Linked DNA regions of Homo sapiens: region 1 is linked to region 2. The links come from fine-mapping of genetic effects on gene expression. Tissue or cell type: whole blood. Region 2 holds a variant in brackets; the other region holds the start of a gene. All regions are shown on one strand. Distances are between the middles of the regions.

What was found. PIP is the estimated chance that this variant, and not a neighbour inherited with it, causes the effect.
Region 1: GABARAP starts here. The variant in region 2 is fine-mapped to the expression of GABARAP in whole blood (TOPMed, PIP 0.96).

What each region holds. Positions count from the first base shown.
Region 1 is chr17:7,237,835-7,245,834 of GRCh38, forward strand. GABARAP (GABA type A receptor-associated protein) reads right to left here and starts at 4,615. Exons shown (of 4, transcript NM_007278.2): 1 at 4,407-4,615; 2 at 3,767-3,845; 3 at 3,508-3,626; 4 at 2,174-3,085. The coding sequence starts at 4,496. The coding sequence ends at 3,020. PHF23 (PHD finger protein 23) reads right to left here and starts at 1,623. Exons shown (of 5, transcript NM_024297.3): 1 at 1,412-1,623. The coding sequence starts at 1,445. CTDNEP1 (CTD nuclear envelope phosphatase 1) reads right to left here. Exons shown (of 8, transcript NM_001143775.2): 7 at 6,717-6,801; 8 at 5,757-6,411. The coding sequence ends at 6,351. RefSeq lists silencers at 1-370, 1,521-1,700, 1,751-1,890, 4,488-4,677, 5,268-5,377 and enhancers at 1,224-1,873, 2,001-2,090, 3,772-4,323, 4,324-4,875.
Region 2 is chr17:7,209,814-7,217,813 of GRCh38, forward strand. DLG4 (discs large MAGUK scaffold protein 4) reads right to left here and starts at 7,814. Exons shown (of 20, transcript NM_001321075.3): 1 at 7,305-7,814. The coding sequence starts at 7,334. It also overlaps a transcript of ACADVL not described here. RefSeq lists enhancers at 1,216-1,730, 1,731-2,245, 4,497-4,791, 5,166-6,144 and a silencer at 4,539-4,778. The variant G/C (reference allele first, on the strand shown) is at 3,134.

The sequences.
Region 1 (8,000 bases), 28 kb after region 2:
CGGAGCCTGGGCGCGGCGCCCTCTGAGGCCTCGCTATAGCGCTCCCCTTCCCCCAACCGGAGGCCCGGCGCCCCGCCCCCCCAACTCACGGTCTCTCTCGACTCCAGTCTACTCGGATCCCTCAGCGCCCCACCCCACCGTACCGCTCCCGGGGCCGCGTCCGGGCCGCCGCCAGCCGCCCCCGTCCTTCACACGCGCCCGGAGCCCCGAGTTCCTACCCGGCCGCGCTCCACCGCCTCGGGCCCTCCGAGACCGCACACGCCGCCCGCCAGCCCCCAGGGTCCAGGATGACCACGCCGAACCGCTCCCCGCCCTCCGGCCCCTTCTACTCGAGCACGCGGCCCGGCGCGCCCCTCACCCCCACCCCAGACACACACAGGCACACGCATCCAACGCTACTTCACGGCCGGGACAGACCCGGGAGCTCTAACCCGGACGCGGCCCCCACCTGCCCCCCCCCCCCCGCCCATACCGCGCTCCCCACAATTTCGCCGTCCCTCCGCCCCCATCCGGGGCTTTGGCCCCTCCCCGTCTCCAGCTTTTCGGGCTCCCCACCGGGCCCCCCGGCCCTGTTCCTAGCCCTCTCCGGCCGCCGCCCCCCCCTCCGCCCCCGTACTCACCACCCAGTTACTAGGCTATGGACCCCTCAACTCTGGCCCCTTCCCCCCAACCAGCCACTCTCTCTCTCTCTCCACAGCAGCCACCGCTGCTGCCGCCGATGCCCCCCTCACCCTCAGCAACTCCCAGGCTCTTAACCCTCGCGGACCAACCCTACCCCCCCGCCCGACAAGTCGCCGGTCTTAACCCCCCCCACCCCGCCCCACCACCCCCTACAACTACCCAGCTCGCCTCGCTTCCTGGCTCGCTCTCTCCACAACTACCCCCCGGTACAGGTCCGTCTGCCGTAGACAATACCCAGACCCCCTCTTCTCCCCACAACTACCTGCCCACCTCTCCGACAATCACCGGGCATTCTCCGGCGGCAACTACTCGGAGCTCCGGTACCACCGCCACAAACTACCCCACCTCGGCGAACTACCGGGCCCCTCACTCAGCCTCTTCTACGTCCTCCCTCCTGAGCAACTCTCCGGCCACTGGATTCCCCTAACCTTCCAGTTCCAGGGCCCCAATCTGCCGGTGGCCCTTTCGGGCCCTAACCCCCGAGGCTCCGGGTTTCAAGCTCCTATCCCCCGCACCCCCACACCGTCTGATCTCCAACTACCCCAGCCCAGTTTCCCACTCCTCTTTCTCCAAGGTCTCTCAACTCGTCGCTCTCCCACCTCCAGGGCCAGCCTCCCGACCCCCTCCCCGAACTCCCCCGCTGGGCTCCGGGGCTCGACCTCCAAGTTTGCCAATTGATTCCTCGCCCGCCCCCCGCCGGCTCAGCGCTCTGCACCGGTCGAGAGCTCACCTTCGGGACTGGGCTCCGCCATGGCTTCCAGCATCGCCCCCTCCCCTCCTCCCGGTCCGGCGCCCCCCTCCCCGGAGCCGGGGATCCCGGTGCCGCCTCTAGTGCTCGATGCTCCCACTGCTTCGCTCCACAGAAGTGTCCGCCTCAGCCCGGTTGAGACTCGAGTCCGCTAGCCGCTGCCGCCACCTCCCTCTACCACTGCCTCCCGCACTCCCGGACCGGGCCCCCTCCCCCCGCGCCGCCGGCCGCCTGCTCCCTCCTCCTCCTCCTCCACCTCCTCTCTCCTCCCTCCCTCCTCTTCTCTCCCTCCTCCCCCCGCCGGCGCCGAGGCGCAGTGCACCAAGGGTTTTGTAGTCCGTCCGGGAACAGCGGAAAAGGGACCGCATGAACCTCCGGAACTTTGATTCCCAGAAAGCCACAGGCTGGCGCAGGCGCACCAAGCCGCTCCCCTCCCCCGGGGAGCGGCGGGGAGACCAGGAGCCGGAGGGGAGAGCGGAAGTGCGCGCGCAGGCCCCTGGGAGATGTAGGCTGGGCGGGACCAAGAAAGAAGAGGAAGAAGGGATTAGAACTCTCGGCCACCATACTGCCTCGTTCTGCAGCTTCTTTCTCCCCAGGAGGACCGCCCCACTTCCGGCCTGCCGGAGAAATGATTGCTGGGAGTTGAAGTATTCCTGGCGATAATGGCTCCCGCTCCCAGTCTTCTCCCTCCCTGATTCCACTCTGCCGGATCCCACACACCGGCAAAAGTCTAGCCAAGTGACATGCAACTGAGAACAGCCGTTTTACTAGCTTGCACACATGAAAATATCTTAGTTAGAATGTTCTAGCAAATGTGGATGTTCACCTAAAGCAGGTACTTCGGAACTTTCTCCACAGGAACCCACAGTAAAAAAAAATTTTTTTTTACATGAGCATTTTTAACATTTAGTTTCACATGCGTGTTATAAAACTAAAGTTTCAAGAAATAATCCTCAGTATTCCATTCCATCACAACAAAAGCACCCTCTTTTTGCAGACAGGGAAAAGCCCAACATGAACAGAATAAACCAAAATATACTTCTATCCCTCCAGCTTGTACCCAGTACTCTTCTTTCCCCACCACTGAAACCCACTGACACCTTGGAAAGACTTAAAATCAGCGGGACGAGGGGAGCAACACAAGGCAAAATTCAGTTCAGCTTGGTGGTTTCCTCTTTATTGATGTGCCTCCTACCTTCCCCCCACAATTTCAGTCCCTTCCAACTACCCCCAAAAAAGAAGGTAGTGAAAGGAAGGGATTGCTGGGGTTCTGAGCCCCTTGGGCAGTCAGAAAGGGAACAGAAACCAAAACAATCACTGGATGTGACACAGACTGACAATCAAGAAGTCTACAGCAGGATGGGAAAGGCGGGCAGAGAAAGGGGAAGAAAGGAGAAAGGAGAGTTACAAGATGCCAACTCCACCATTACCCCTCCTAAGAGAGGCTGGAGAGAAAGCCACAAACATTAAGAAGTGCCGGTCCTGAATAAGGGAGGTGGTGTTTGAGCTTGAAGGAGGAGGAGGTCAAGAAAGGGGGGCCACCTCTCTCTTTGTAGAATGAGACCCCCCTCCAGCTCAGGGGCAGCAGCTTCACAGACCGTAGACACTTTCGTCACTGTAGGCAATGTAGAGAAAGAAGTCTTCTTCATGGTGTTCCTGGGATGAAAGCAGAAAACTGTTCAGCAACTGGGCTCCAGTAACTTAAACCAACCACGACCCAGACACGTTCTTCTAGAACCACAAACCATTGCCTGACTCCTTCACTGACTCCAAGGCCTACCACACGAGCAGTATAATCTCTGCAGTCCTGGGCAAAAAGGCCTCAAACTGTTTTCTGCTGCTTTGGAATGGGGAGGGGGACTGGGAAGAGTCCCGAACAGATAGTTTCTCTAGCTCACTGTTCTCTTTCCTTCTCTCTACTCCTACTGTTCTGTCCAAACCCCCAACCCACGGCTATTATGAAACTTTAAGGCAAGCCAGGAAGCTAGTCCAAAACTACTGATGTAACAACACTTTCTTCCCCTCACGCTCTTCCAAGATTCCTCTCCAAAGCCTCCACCACTTCCCAGTCACCATACCTGGTACAGCTGACCCATTGTGGCACTGGTGGGTGGAATGACATTGTTGACAAAGAAAAACAAGGCATCCTCAGCTCGGAGATGAATTCGCTTCCGGATCAAGAAGTAGAACTGACCAACTGCAAAAGATACAAGATGCAAGAAAGTCACAGAGGTCAAAAATGCCCTCAAAAGAACAGCTGCTAGGTGGAGCCTCCTCCCGCAGAGACTGCACTCCCACCCACAGGAAGCAAGCCTGAGTCTTGGATCAGGTTCCCACCTGTGAGATCAGAAGGCACCAGGTATTTCTTTTTGTCCAGGTCTCCTATCCGAGCTTTGGGAGCCTTTTCTACTATCACCTGATAAAGAGATGAAAATTAGGAGACAGAAGGAATGCAGCCCCGAAGCTGCACCTGTCAAGAACTCAAGAAACAATATTCCTAGCACCTAAATCTACCCCAGATTCATCTCTTTGTCTTTGTACACGCGGTGCAGCACTGAGTCCCAGAGATCCTGACCTCACTGACTGGAGCTCATTTAAATATCCAGGATCCATCCCCCAATAGGGCGTCACCATAAACAACTATCTTAATCAGACGGAGGTGACTTGTTTGGGTCGACTAGTGATTCAATCTCGCAACCTTAGCTAGCTGGGGGGATGACCATTTGAAGCTCAGGCTGTCAAACTCTCTAAGGCCTCAAATGCTAAGGTTTCTCTCTCCTGTCCACATCCCTCTCAACCCCACATCCACCACTACCCCACTCCTTTCATCCTGGGTCCCAAGGACAGCAGTTTCAGGCTCGCTGCCAACCCCACCACAGCCAGCAGCCTGATCCCTGCGCTGCCTGTCCCGATCCAAGGCCAGGCTGTGGCGTCAGCGTAAGCGTCCCGCGCCCTCGGCCCTGGCTACTGTCCTCACCGGCACCCGGTCCGGGTATTTCTTTCGGATCTTCTCGCCCTCAGAGCGGCGCTTCTCGAACGGATGCTCTTCTTTGTACACGAACTTCATCCTCCCGGGAACCGGGCTGGACAGGGCTGGGCTGAGGGAACCCAGGGGGGCCGGGACGGGGGGCGGCGACGACGGCGGCGACGCGCGGGCGGATTCAGCGGAGCGATCCACGAATTTGCGCCACTTCCCTATTCACCAACCCCGCCCCCGACTATCGGGGACTGCCCCCCCCGCTAAGATACGCCACTACCTCAGCGGCGCTAACGCTGCTAGCGTAGCACCACCAACTGACCGGCCCCCTCACGCCATTAGCGTAATCGCTTTGGAATCAATTTGTGGGCTACGCAGGCGACGTAGCAAAGACGGTTGGCTTTTGCTCATCGAAAATTACTCTAAACCTATTCCCCAACCGTCCCCTCAAGGAAGCTGGGGCTGAAGAGGAGTAAAAGATGGTAATCATCATACGAGACTTGGTTCTCCAAGTTCCTTTCGTTAACAACGTAGAGGAACAGCAGGGACAATTACAAGGTTAGCTATTCACGAACCGTGTTGCTACGCTGAAGGCGGCCGTTGACACCAAAACAAAGTAGTACCCAAGTGGCGGAGATGATCTCCAGAAATAAGAAGTCAAAAAGAAAACAGATGTTTGGAGAGATCTACAGAACGCTTAAGTGCCAAAATGAGTAGACCAATAGGGACTGGAGAGGAGGTTGGAAAGGTAGGGACTACGCCAGCGCGGAGGAACACTGCGGGACTTGAGTTAAATCATGTGATCTCAAAGAGGGCGGAGCGTCACGTGGCGGGTGCGCGAAGTAGGGCCGGCTTGGGAGGGCGCCGGGGAGGCGGGGCCGGCTGGGCGACAGCTGGGAGGGGGACCGACGCCTTCCCGGACAGCGGAGGTCGGGGCGCCAGCCACCTGGGGGCAGCGCCCGCTTAACCTGTCCACGTCAGTGCCCCGGACGAAGCCCGGTTTCTCCAGCTCTACGCCCTTTGGCCGTCCAGGTTTCTCCTTTCGTGCTTCCATAGCCGGTTTCTCCTTTCGTGCTTCCATAGCCTGCTTCTCCGAAGGTGTCCTTCCACTCCCCACCAGCGCGCCCATCCTGTCACTCGGCCCTTCCCGCCAAAGCATCTGGTGTCAGCATTATTGTATCCCAGGCATCTGGTGTCCGCATTATTCTATCCCTATACTCAACGCCACCTTTCCCCCTGCCCCTTGAGTCCAACAGCAGTCTCTTCCCCCTCTGCCTGTGGGACAGGGTGCATGTGAACAAAGTCCCCTCTCTTCACTTCCCAAAACCCCAGAGAAGGACCTAAGGCCGCTTTGGTTTCAAAGTTATAATGCATGGTTTAAAAGAGAGAAAAGGAAAAAAGACACAAAGCTGGTTACAGGTCTGAGGGAGTCTAAGGAGAGAAAAATAGAGGGAGAGTAAAGGGGGGACAAATTTAGGGAAAATCCAGTGGCCCAAAATCCCAGTATCCCACCCACAGCCCAGCCCTTGGAGCAGGAGTGAAGAATTAGATCAGTTTTGTACAAGAGTTTTTTAAAAAAAATCAAATCACAACAAAGCTGACTTGGCTTCTCTTTGAGCCTCCTGGATCACCGTATGTCTGTCACTCTGGCCAGTCCTGCCTCTTCACAAACACTGATTCGGCTCTCCTAGGCTTCCGCCTGTGTCCCAGTCTGGGGTTTCCATGGAGTGTGAACACGAAGTTAAGAGTGAGGCTGCTTCAGAGCCCCTGGCCCATGTGTCCATCCAGACTCCAAGTGGAGTGTAGGGCTCCCAGGGCAGAGAGGGGTGGGAGGGGCAGACCCTGCCCAGGCAGTCCTCACATTGGACAGGGCATCAGACGGCATCCCAAGGGCTCGCCCTCCCTTTCCCCCCCACCCCAACTCAGGTGGAGGGGGAGCAGCTGTCACCAGAGCCGATGTTGGTGAAGGTTTCGGCTCAGCACGGAACGAACATCAGCGGTGAACCTGGGGTGACAATAACTTGCATTGGTAGAGTACCTTATAGTTCATACCCTCACAACACTCTTGTAAGGCAGCATCACTGGAGATGTGGGACCTAAATTATCACCATATTCATGATTAGATAGGTTCAATTTGCCCACAGCCTACTAGCTAAAGTGATGAGCTTTGAAGTAAGACGACCTGGGTCCAAATGTTAAATTCTTAAGGGAACAGAGTTAAAACAGGACAAACCTTTTTTATTCCCTCTGAGGATCCCCCACCTCCTCCTTTCTTGAGATATCCAAGTGTCCAGAGCCCACTTCCCTTACCTGAGGGCATCCAGCATTGGGAGCAGGTTGAGAAGGGCTGTGTCGCTGGGGTCACTGAACCAGGATTTGATGGGGATGGCATTGTCTAGGGTGGGTGAAAATGCAGATGAGAAGAAACAGAATTCAAGAGAGACGGTGTTTTTCTCTTCTTGGAGGGAAGGAGGAATTATTGTTAAAAATATATGCCTCCCACTACCGGAAGTCAACAACCTAAGTAAAACTTTCCTGGTTTATGCTCCGAAACTAAGTTTTAATCACCAGATCTCATACCTATTGATGCTTCTAGTCAAGCTTACTGCCATTGTGCCTCACTTGAAACACACTTGGCCAGGCGCAGTGGCTCACACCTGTTATCCCAACACTTTGAGAGGCCGAGGTGGGAGGATCACTTGAGCTCAGGAGTTTGAGTCCAGCCTGGGCAACATAATGAGATCCCTTCTCTACTAAAAATCAAAAAATTGGCCAAGGGCAGTGGCTTACGCCTGTAATCCCAGCACTTTGGGAGGCCAAAGCGGACGAATCACGAGGTCAGGAATTCAAGACCAGCCTGGCCAACGTGGTGAAACTCCGTCGCTACTAAAAATACAAAAAATTAGCTGCGCGTGGTGGCAGGTGCCTGTGATCCCAGCTACTTGGGAGGCTGAGGCAGGAGAATTGCTTGAACCTGGAAGTCGGAGGTTGCAGTAAGCCGAGATCACGCCACTGCATTCCAGCCTGGGTGACAGTGCGAGACTCTGTCTCAAAAAAAAATAAAAAATAAAAAAATTAGCTGGGCATGGTGGTGCACGCCTGTAGTCCCAACTACTGAGAGGCTGAGGCAGAAGGATCACTTGAGCCTGGGAGATCGAGGCTGCAGTGAGCTATGATCATGACACTGCACTCCAGCCTGGGAACAGAGTGAGACCCTATCTCAAAAAATAAATAAAAATAAATTTTATTTTTATTTATTTATTATTTATTTTTTTTGAGACGGCGTCTCGCTCTGTCACCCAGGCTGGAGTGCAATGGTGCAATCTCGGCTCACTGCAACCTCCGCCTCCCGGGTTCAAGCGATTCTCCTGCCTCAGCCTCCCGAGTTGCTGGGATTACAGGCGTGCGCCACCACGCCTGGCTAGTTTTTTCTATTTTTAGTAGAGATGGGGTTTCACCATGTTTGTTAGGCTGGTCTCGAACTTCTGACCTCGTGATCCGCCTGCCTCGGCCTCCCAAAGTGCTGGGATTACAAGCATAATCCACCGTGCCCAGCCAAAAATAAATTTTAAAAATGAAAAAAATGATATAAGA
Region 2 (8,000 bases):
CGAGGTGGGTACATCACCTGAGGTCAGAGACCAGCCTGGCCAACATGGTGAAATCCCATCTCTACTAAAAATACAAAAATTAGCTGGGCGTGGTGGCACATGGCTGTAATCCTAGCTACATGGGAGGCTGAGGCAGGAGAATTGCTTGAACCTGGGAAGCGGAGGTTGCAGTGAGCCGAGATCATGCCACTGCACTCTAGCCTGGCGACAGAGTGAGACTCCATCTCCAAAACAAAAAAGAGAGAGGGCGAGCAGAATTTCCCTCCCAAAAGTTTCTGAGAGGCTGAGAGTGCCCTAATACTTAGAGGGCAGCAGCTGCGAGATCAAATGGGAGGAAGCTTATCAAGGTCAATGGCCAATCCTTGAGTAGGATTCTGAAAATGTTAAAGATGATGAATCAAGGCTGAGAATATAACACAACTTTGGCTGTAGAGTAAGGGTACAGTAAGAGAATGGGAGAAGGGAAGTGGTCCTGTCAGCACGAAAACTCTCAAACCCAGAACACAGAGACAACTCAAATCAAGAAGCACCCTGATACATTTAAAGAGTCTTAAAGAAGGAAAACGGGCTCAGCAAGATTGAGTCTATTCTCTGGGCCACAGACTTGGAGAGAATCCTGAACTCCAGATTTCAATCCGATGGGCACAAAAAGTAGAGAAGGAAAATAGGAGAACACACAAAATAGCCCTCCTCCAAGGCTGAGCTGTCTTGAATAAAGGAGTTCTATGAACCAACAGAGACTGTTCATTCCACATCCTGAGAAGGTGGTCTTCTACCTGGGCAGTGCACAAGCTGAGGGGCAAGCCCCAGAATTGAGACCTGGGGGAAGGGGTGGAAGCCGCTCTCCGCTATCCACTCTTCCTTCACAAGGCCTCCAATTCCCTGCAAGGTAAATTAGGACCAAAGCTCCAAGTTTTGGAGTCTGGGGGAGGGTTTGAGTCCAGTGCCTCTCCATCTTCACTCCACCTCAGAGAGAAAATTCCTGAATCTGAGGAGGAAATGTCAGCGTGCACCCAAAGAAAATGGAAACATGAGGAGGGCCATTTCATCATTTATTCTAGGGAGGAAATGAAGGTAAACTTTTATCTCAGCGAGCCCCCAATACCTCTCCCTGCCCCACCCCCATGGAGGGAGGGTGGTGTCTGGCACTGAAGAAAAGGCTCCTCAGGATTGGGAGGCAACATGGAGAAAATGGGGAACAAGAAATGGGTGCCAGGGTTTCCAGAATGTGGCTGGAAGAGGTTAGGGACTAGGTTCAGTCTCTGGAAATTTTCGACGTACATGTAGGGGGGCGGGGAGAAACGTCGGGAGGGGTGGGGGTGGGGGCGGGGGAGAGTAATTCTGAAACTGCAGACTGGGGGGCTGGGGCGGTGGGGGATCAGCACCTCTCAGTCTTGGATTACAGGGCAACTAAAGCAGGACGGGAAAGGAGGACCCCCCCCATCCTTTATCCTACTGGGACTCAGGGCCCTAACCCAGACAACTCAGATGCTACTGGGACATATCTGCACCCCCAATATATTAGGGCTTAAAACAAGTAAAAGGCCTGGGGAATGGGGGACACGGACGGAGTCGCTGTTGTTCCTTCCCCTTTGGCCCCCTCCTCACCAGAGCCCCAGTTGCACAGAATGACCTGGAACTGAGGCTTGCACCCCCAAAACATAGGGGTGTGAGTCAAAGTGAATGATAAGAGGGGCGACCCACGGCGCCTGTCCACGAGAAGTTGCAACCCAGAGACCCCGCACCAAGCAGAAGGAAGAGCGACAGCGCTTGAAGCTTGCACCCTGATATTTGCGGGGGTCCGGGAAGGGGGAGCGGGCCGGAGCCCATACCGCGGCACGTACCACGCAGAGACACATGGAGGCGAATCTGTTCCGAGCCGACATGGAGAAGGGGAGGGGGACTGAGGGAAGGGGGTAGGTGGGATATCAAGGGTCCCGGGGGTTGGGGGAGGGGGAGGGGCAGAGGGGCGGGGGCTGCGGCGGCCGCGGCAACTGGAGGCTGCGGCGGGGGGGGGGGGGGGGTGACGGCGCCTGCGCAGTAAGGAAGAGCGTCACGTTGGGAGAGAGGGGTGAGGGGAGACCCTCTTAGCCACCAACTTCCCTGGTTCACGCTGTTTCTCTGTGAACTTCACTTTCCACAGTATACTTCTATTCCGACCCCTCTACAATTAAAGACAGACTTAAATTTACCAGTTTATCTCTCTAGTTCTCAGGGACCCCTTATTCCATCCCATCTAATCCCCCAACCCCAACATCGCGAGACCCCAAACCATTCCAAAACCTCACTGGACATCTCGTCACTACTGGCCTCCCAGAGTCCAGGGAAACAAACAGCACTTCTCTCACAAGAACCCCCAAGGGATCTACACTGCCTCTCCCACCAAACCCCCGCAAGATTGGTGCTGTGGATAGCATCTCCTCAGATTCCAAGGCATCTCCTACTCTAACCAGCATAGTTCTCCCCTGCAGTCCAGCCCCACCTGATAGGCAGCCCATGTTTCTTCAAGAGTTTAAGGAACCACAGAGCCTTGTTGGCCCCCCAAATTAATATATGCTAAATCATCCCTTTCTATATCACATCTATCTCCCAATCCACTAACAGGGATGTTGCAATTAGTGCAAATATTACTCTTGCTCTAATATAAACATCCAAATAACAAGTCCTCTAATTTGTTGGGGATCCCCTGTCCAAACCCCCGAATCTAATAAGATACTCATGACTTCCTAATATGCCAGTCTCCAAATCCACACCAGAACCCAATTTCAGGAAATATTTAATCTACTTTAAAGCAGACCCTCCAAATTAAATAGCAATCTCGTCAATTTTTTCCAAAACTCTTATAAAAAGAAATGTAGACGGGAAGATCGCTGGAGGCCAGGTGCCCAACACCAGCTTGGGCAACATAGTGAGATCCCATCTCTAAAAAAAAAAATTTTGGCCTGGCACGGTGGCTCACACCTGTAATCCCAGCACTTTGGGAGGCCGAGGCGGTTGGATCATGAGGTCAGGCGTTCCAGACCAGCCTGGCCAAGATGGTGAAACCCCATCTCTACTAAAACTACAAAAATTAGCCGGGCGCGGTGGCAGGCGCCTGTAATCCTAGCTACTAGGGAGGCTGAGGCAGGAGGAT[G/C]GCTTGAATCTGGGCAGCAGAGATTGCAGTGAGCCGAGATCGTGCCACTGCACTCTAGCCTAGGCGACAGAGTGAGACTCGGTCTCAAAAATTAATAATTAATTAATTAAAAGTATTTTCCTTTTCCTTTTCTTTTCTTTCTTTCTTTCTTTTTTTTTTTTTTTTTTTTGAGACAGATTCTCGCTCTGTTGCTCATGCTGGAGTGCAATGGCGCGATCTCGGCTTACTGCAACATCCGGCTCCCGGGTTCGAGTGATTCTCCTACCTCAACCTCCCGGATATCTGGCATTACAGGCGCCCGCCACTACGCCCGGCTAATTTTTTTGTATTTTTAGTAGAGACGGGGTATCGCCATGTTGGCCAGGCTGGTCTCGAACTCGTGACCTCACATGATCCGCGCGCCTCGGGCTCCCAAAGTGCTGGGATTACAGGTGTGAGCCACCGCACCCGGCACCTCCTCTCCTTTTCTTTACCCCTGAGGTTCATAGATTACACCCTTTTCTGTCTGCCCAGAACATCCCCTCCACGATTCTGAATTCCAACTTTGTCGGAAGATTGCTCCCAAATATATCTTCTCCACACTCAGGCCTCAAAAAATACACACCAAAGATACGGCCGGCAATCTGCAATGACCCACAAATCGTCCAGAACACTCCCAACCGCCTCCTTCAGGTCTCTTCAGAGATTTCCATTTTCTCCCAAACAACTTAACCTGAAAGCCTCTCTTCCAAATATTCTCCCATTGAACGCCCACCCTTCCAGCTCTTAAAACCCAGTGAGGGGTCTCCTCAAATCGGCTGACTTCTATAAAATGCCCATACATGGTAGAAATGACGACTTCCCTAGAATCTCACCCAAGCGAGATTGACCCCGTTGATCGGCATCTGTTACATGCGCCCCCAAGATGACCCCCAATGTCCTAGTTTCATATCTGGTAGGAAGGCTTGGATCACCAGAGGATCCAAGGAGTCAGTGCGGAAGGGGCTGGACTCAAATTTCCTTCTAGAATAGAAAACCTGCAGGCCCTGCTTATCCACCAGTGGGCGCCATGGCCCATAAAGACCCTTCCCCATCCCCCATTTCCCTTTTCCCTCCATTTTCCGTTTCTCTGTTGCCTGGCAACGCAGCAATCAAGGACTTTGCCGTCGCCTAGCAACCGTCTCCTGGGAACACAGAGCTGAGGTAGGAGGGGTGCTCTGATGAAATCTGAACAGACCTCCATCTTAGGAAAATTGAGACGTCAGACTTCCCAACCCCCGGATTCTCCTTTCCAAAGACCCCCGCGCCCTGAAGTTACTTGGACAATAGCTCCTCAAACCCTGTCTCCTTTACGCACGGGGGGCCACGCCACGCCCATCCCAGGTCAGCCCCGCCCTCATTTCGGTCAGGTAACCCAGCCCCAAGGTTCCTCCCCTTTCCGAAGGTTGCTGCCTCCCTCGATAGAGTAAGCCAGACCCCACCCACCTGCCCGGGAGGCCACGCCTCCGTCCACTTCCCGCCCGTTCGCTCCCCCTGCCTCGCCCACACTGTCCCTCCGCCACGCCCCTGACGGCCAATGAATGAGGCCGTCGGCCACACTGCCCCGCCCCCGGCATCTCGGCTTTGCCCAATAAGGACCACCCGGAGGGTTTAACCGCTTCGCTCCTGGGGCTCTGGCAAATAGCCTCAGTCTTTCCCCCACTGTATCCCCACCCCCACTTGTTCTGCTCCGCCTTCCGCCACCCTCGCCCGGCCCTCCAGTCCGCCACGCAGCTTCAGTCGTCGCCGGTTACCATGGCAACGGCGGCAGCAGCGCGGGGAAAGGGGGAGGGACGGGGGCGGAGTGGGAGAAAGAGATGCTCAGAGACGAGAGATTCTGGCAGAGATAAAGGCACCAAGAAAGACAAAGTGATCGCTGTAGAGTGGAGTTTGCACACAACACAGGGCCTAGCACGCAGTAGGCTTTCAATAAATGTTCCTTAAATTACTGCGGCAGGAGTCTAAATATAGGCAATGAAAGATGGAAGACTCAGGCAGAGCTGGGGAGCTCAACGACCGCAAAGCCTGAGCACTCCCTACCCCATCCAGCATTTGGGGAAGCAGGAGCCATGTGCCCCCTGCAGGCTCCTCTTGGGCTACCCTCCGCTGGCTGCCCTGGATAGAGATGAACCACAACTCCCAACAGCGCCATGGGCAGCAACCCTCTAACATTGAGGGATCTGGTGCCTCGGGGCCTTATGGGAGTTGGAGTCCCCACCATACCGAGGCTGACAAGTTTTCCAGCCAAGGAATGTGGCAAGCCTGGGTCTCCACGCCTCTGTAAACCCCAAATGCATGATCTGCTCTGTAAGCCTCCTTCCTTCAGGGATGCTCAACCCTGGGCTCCATGGAAGAAGTAGGAGTCTGGAGTGGGTAATGAATAAGGCCACCCACCCACCCAGAATAGCTGCCTGCTGGCAAGCCCCTCACCCTCGCTCCCATTTGTGTGTTCACGTGTTGGAAGCAGAGCCCACACATTCCAGCGGGCTTTCTATTTACACCTGGAATGCAGGGGACCACAGCCATGGAGCCTAAGGCCAAGTGACAGGCCTAAGGGCAGGAGACAGCGGGAGCAGAGGAAACCAGGCCAGAGAAACTGAGGCATAAAAATCCACCGAAACTACAGGGGATGTGGGGAAGAGGCAGCCTGGGAGAAAGCCCGAAACCCACAGAATGAAGGACAAGAAAGTCGCCCTGGTGGAGAGAGGGTGGGGGCTCCAGATCTAAAGGTCCTCAGCCCCCAATCTCTTCCAACCATCCTCACACGTGCACAATGCATGTGTACACACATGTGTGAGTTTGTGGCAGGGAACATGTGTGTCCTCAGCTCCCTCCCATGAAAAGCTGCAGTTCCCACTAAATATAACCCCCTCCCCAGCCTGTGACTCACCCGGACCCCGCCTCCCCCGGCCCCCACTTCCTGTCCCACCCCCCAGCCCCCAGCTGCCTGCCACCCGCCCAAGCCTCCCTCCACACACCAGGCATCCAGCTCTCCAGTCCCAGAGTCTCCAAGGAGAGCCTAGGTATCTGCATCCCACCAGGAGCTCGCCTGTGCTCCATCCGAGATCTCCTGCCTTTGCCAGGCTCCAACCAGAGGGACACTCTTGCACAGATCCCCATCGCTGCCAGCCCTGCCCTCCTCCTACACCTTTTCACCCCAGTAACCTCAGTAACTTCGGTCATAAGCCCTCAGGGACCCTTAAATCCAGGTGTCCTCCCCCACCTTGATCCCAAGCGTCAGGGGTATCTGGAACAGTCCCCACATCTGCTCTTCTCCCTCTCTCTTGATCAGGGCTAGATACAGTGTGGGAGGAGATGGGGATATTGGGCACCTGCCTTTGGGCCACCCCCAAATTGTGCACCACCCACCCGGTCCCCCTCCTCAAATCCCCTCTCTCCCTAAGCCTCTCATCCTCCTCCTCAGGGGCTGGCAAGCTCGGCTGCTGCAATCTTCTGCCTCCTATGGGAGTACCCCCAAATCCTTGCCTCACCTGGTCCATTCCCTCAGGTGATCCCATGCCAGGGCCCCAGCCCTCTGACAACTTCCAACTACCTCCATTCTATATGACTGAACCCTAAATTAACAGTTCCCTCAAATTGAGAGAGCATCCCTAAATGCAGCCACCACGAGATGCTTGTTCTAGAGTCTGAAGGCCCACCCCTTCCCTGCCAGCTGACACCCCCAGATCAGTCAGGCACTCACAACCAATAACCTTTACCCCATGCCAGGAGCCCCCCAAAACTGGACAAGGCCCTTGGAAGCCAGCTTTTCCCTGGGGAGGAAAGAGGAACCCCCCAACATAGCCCACCTTCCCACATACACCAGCAGGACTCCCTTATGAGCCAGGCTTCTCCTTAAATAAGTCTCCCTCAAACAGCGCTGATGAACCCCCAAACCCGCCAGGCCCCCCGAACCATGGAATATCCTAAATTTTCCATATCCCTACAGGTACAAAGGGATCACTCCAGGGGGCACCTGTGGCCAAATCCTGCATTTTCTCAGATGTGAACCCCAAAACTAAATTAAGACCCCCAAATACATCTTACTTCTGATGCTGCCACTCCAGGGGCGCCAGTCCCAGATAAGGCCTACTAACCCCTCCCCACAAACTCATACCCTCCCCCCAGTTTATAGCCCCCCCATCATGCTTACCTTGGTTGTCACTATACAGAGACAGTCCATGTTGGGGGGCCTGGCCGCGGCGGCGGGTAAGGGGCTCTGACTTCATCGGAGTTTCGTTCCTCCCCTCCGTGGGTTCTCACCCCTCCCCCCTCCGCACCCCACTTTTGCAGGGGGGGCCAGGATGGGGGGAGGGGTGAGAGGGGAAGGAGGGGGTTGGAGAAGGGAAGGGGAGGGGAGCGTGGGAGGGAGGGGAAGGGGGCCCTAAAAGGGGCTCCCCAGTGGAGGGGAGGGGGCTTGGGGAGCACACCCCGATTCTCAGGAGGGGCGGGGGCACCGGGGGCTGGCAGCCCCGGAGTTCGGGGGCTGGGGCATGAGCTGGGGTGGGGGAGGGGAACTGGATTTCGGGGAGCCCCGGGGTAGGGGGGGGTCTTGCCAAACGGCCAGGGGCTAGGGGCCGTGGCGGGGGAGTGGGGTGGGGGGGTTGGAAACGGCAGCGGCCGAGGGAGCCGTGGAGCCGAAGAGGGAAGGGGAGAGAGGAGGAGAGAGGAAGCAGGGGGAGGGAGGGAGGGAGCTAGGAGCCAGAATGGGGGGGGTGCCTTGGCAGAGTTAACTCCTTCTGTGCTGGCAGGAACCCGGATAATGGGAAAGGAGATAGAAGCAGAAGCACAGAGGCCCCTGAGGCAAACATGGAGACCTGGCCAGCCACCAGCGATGACAGCAAAGACG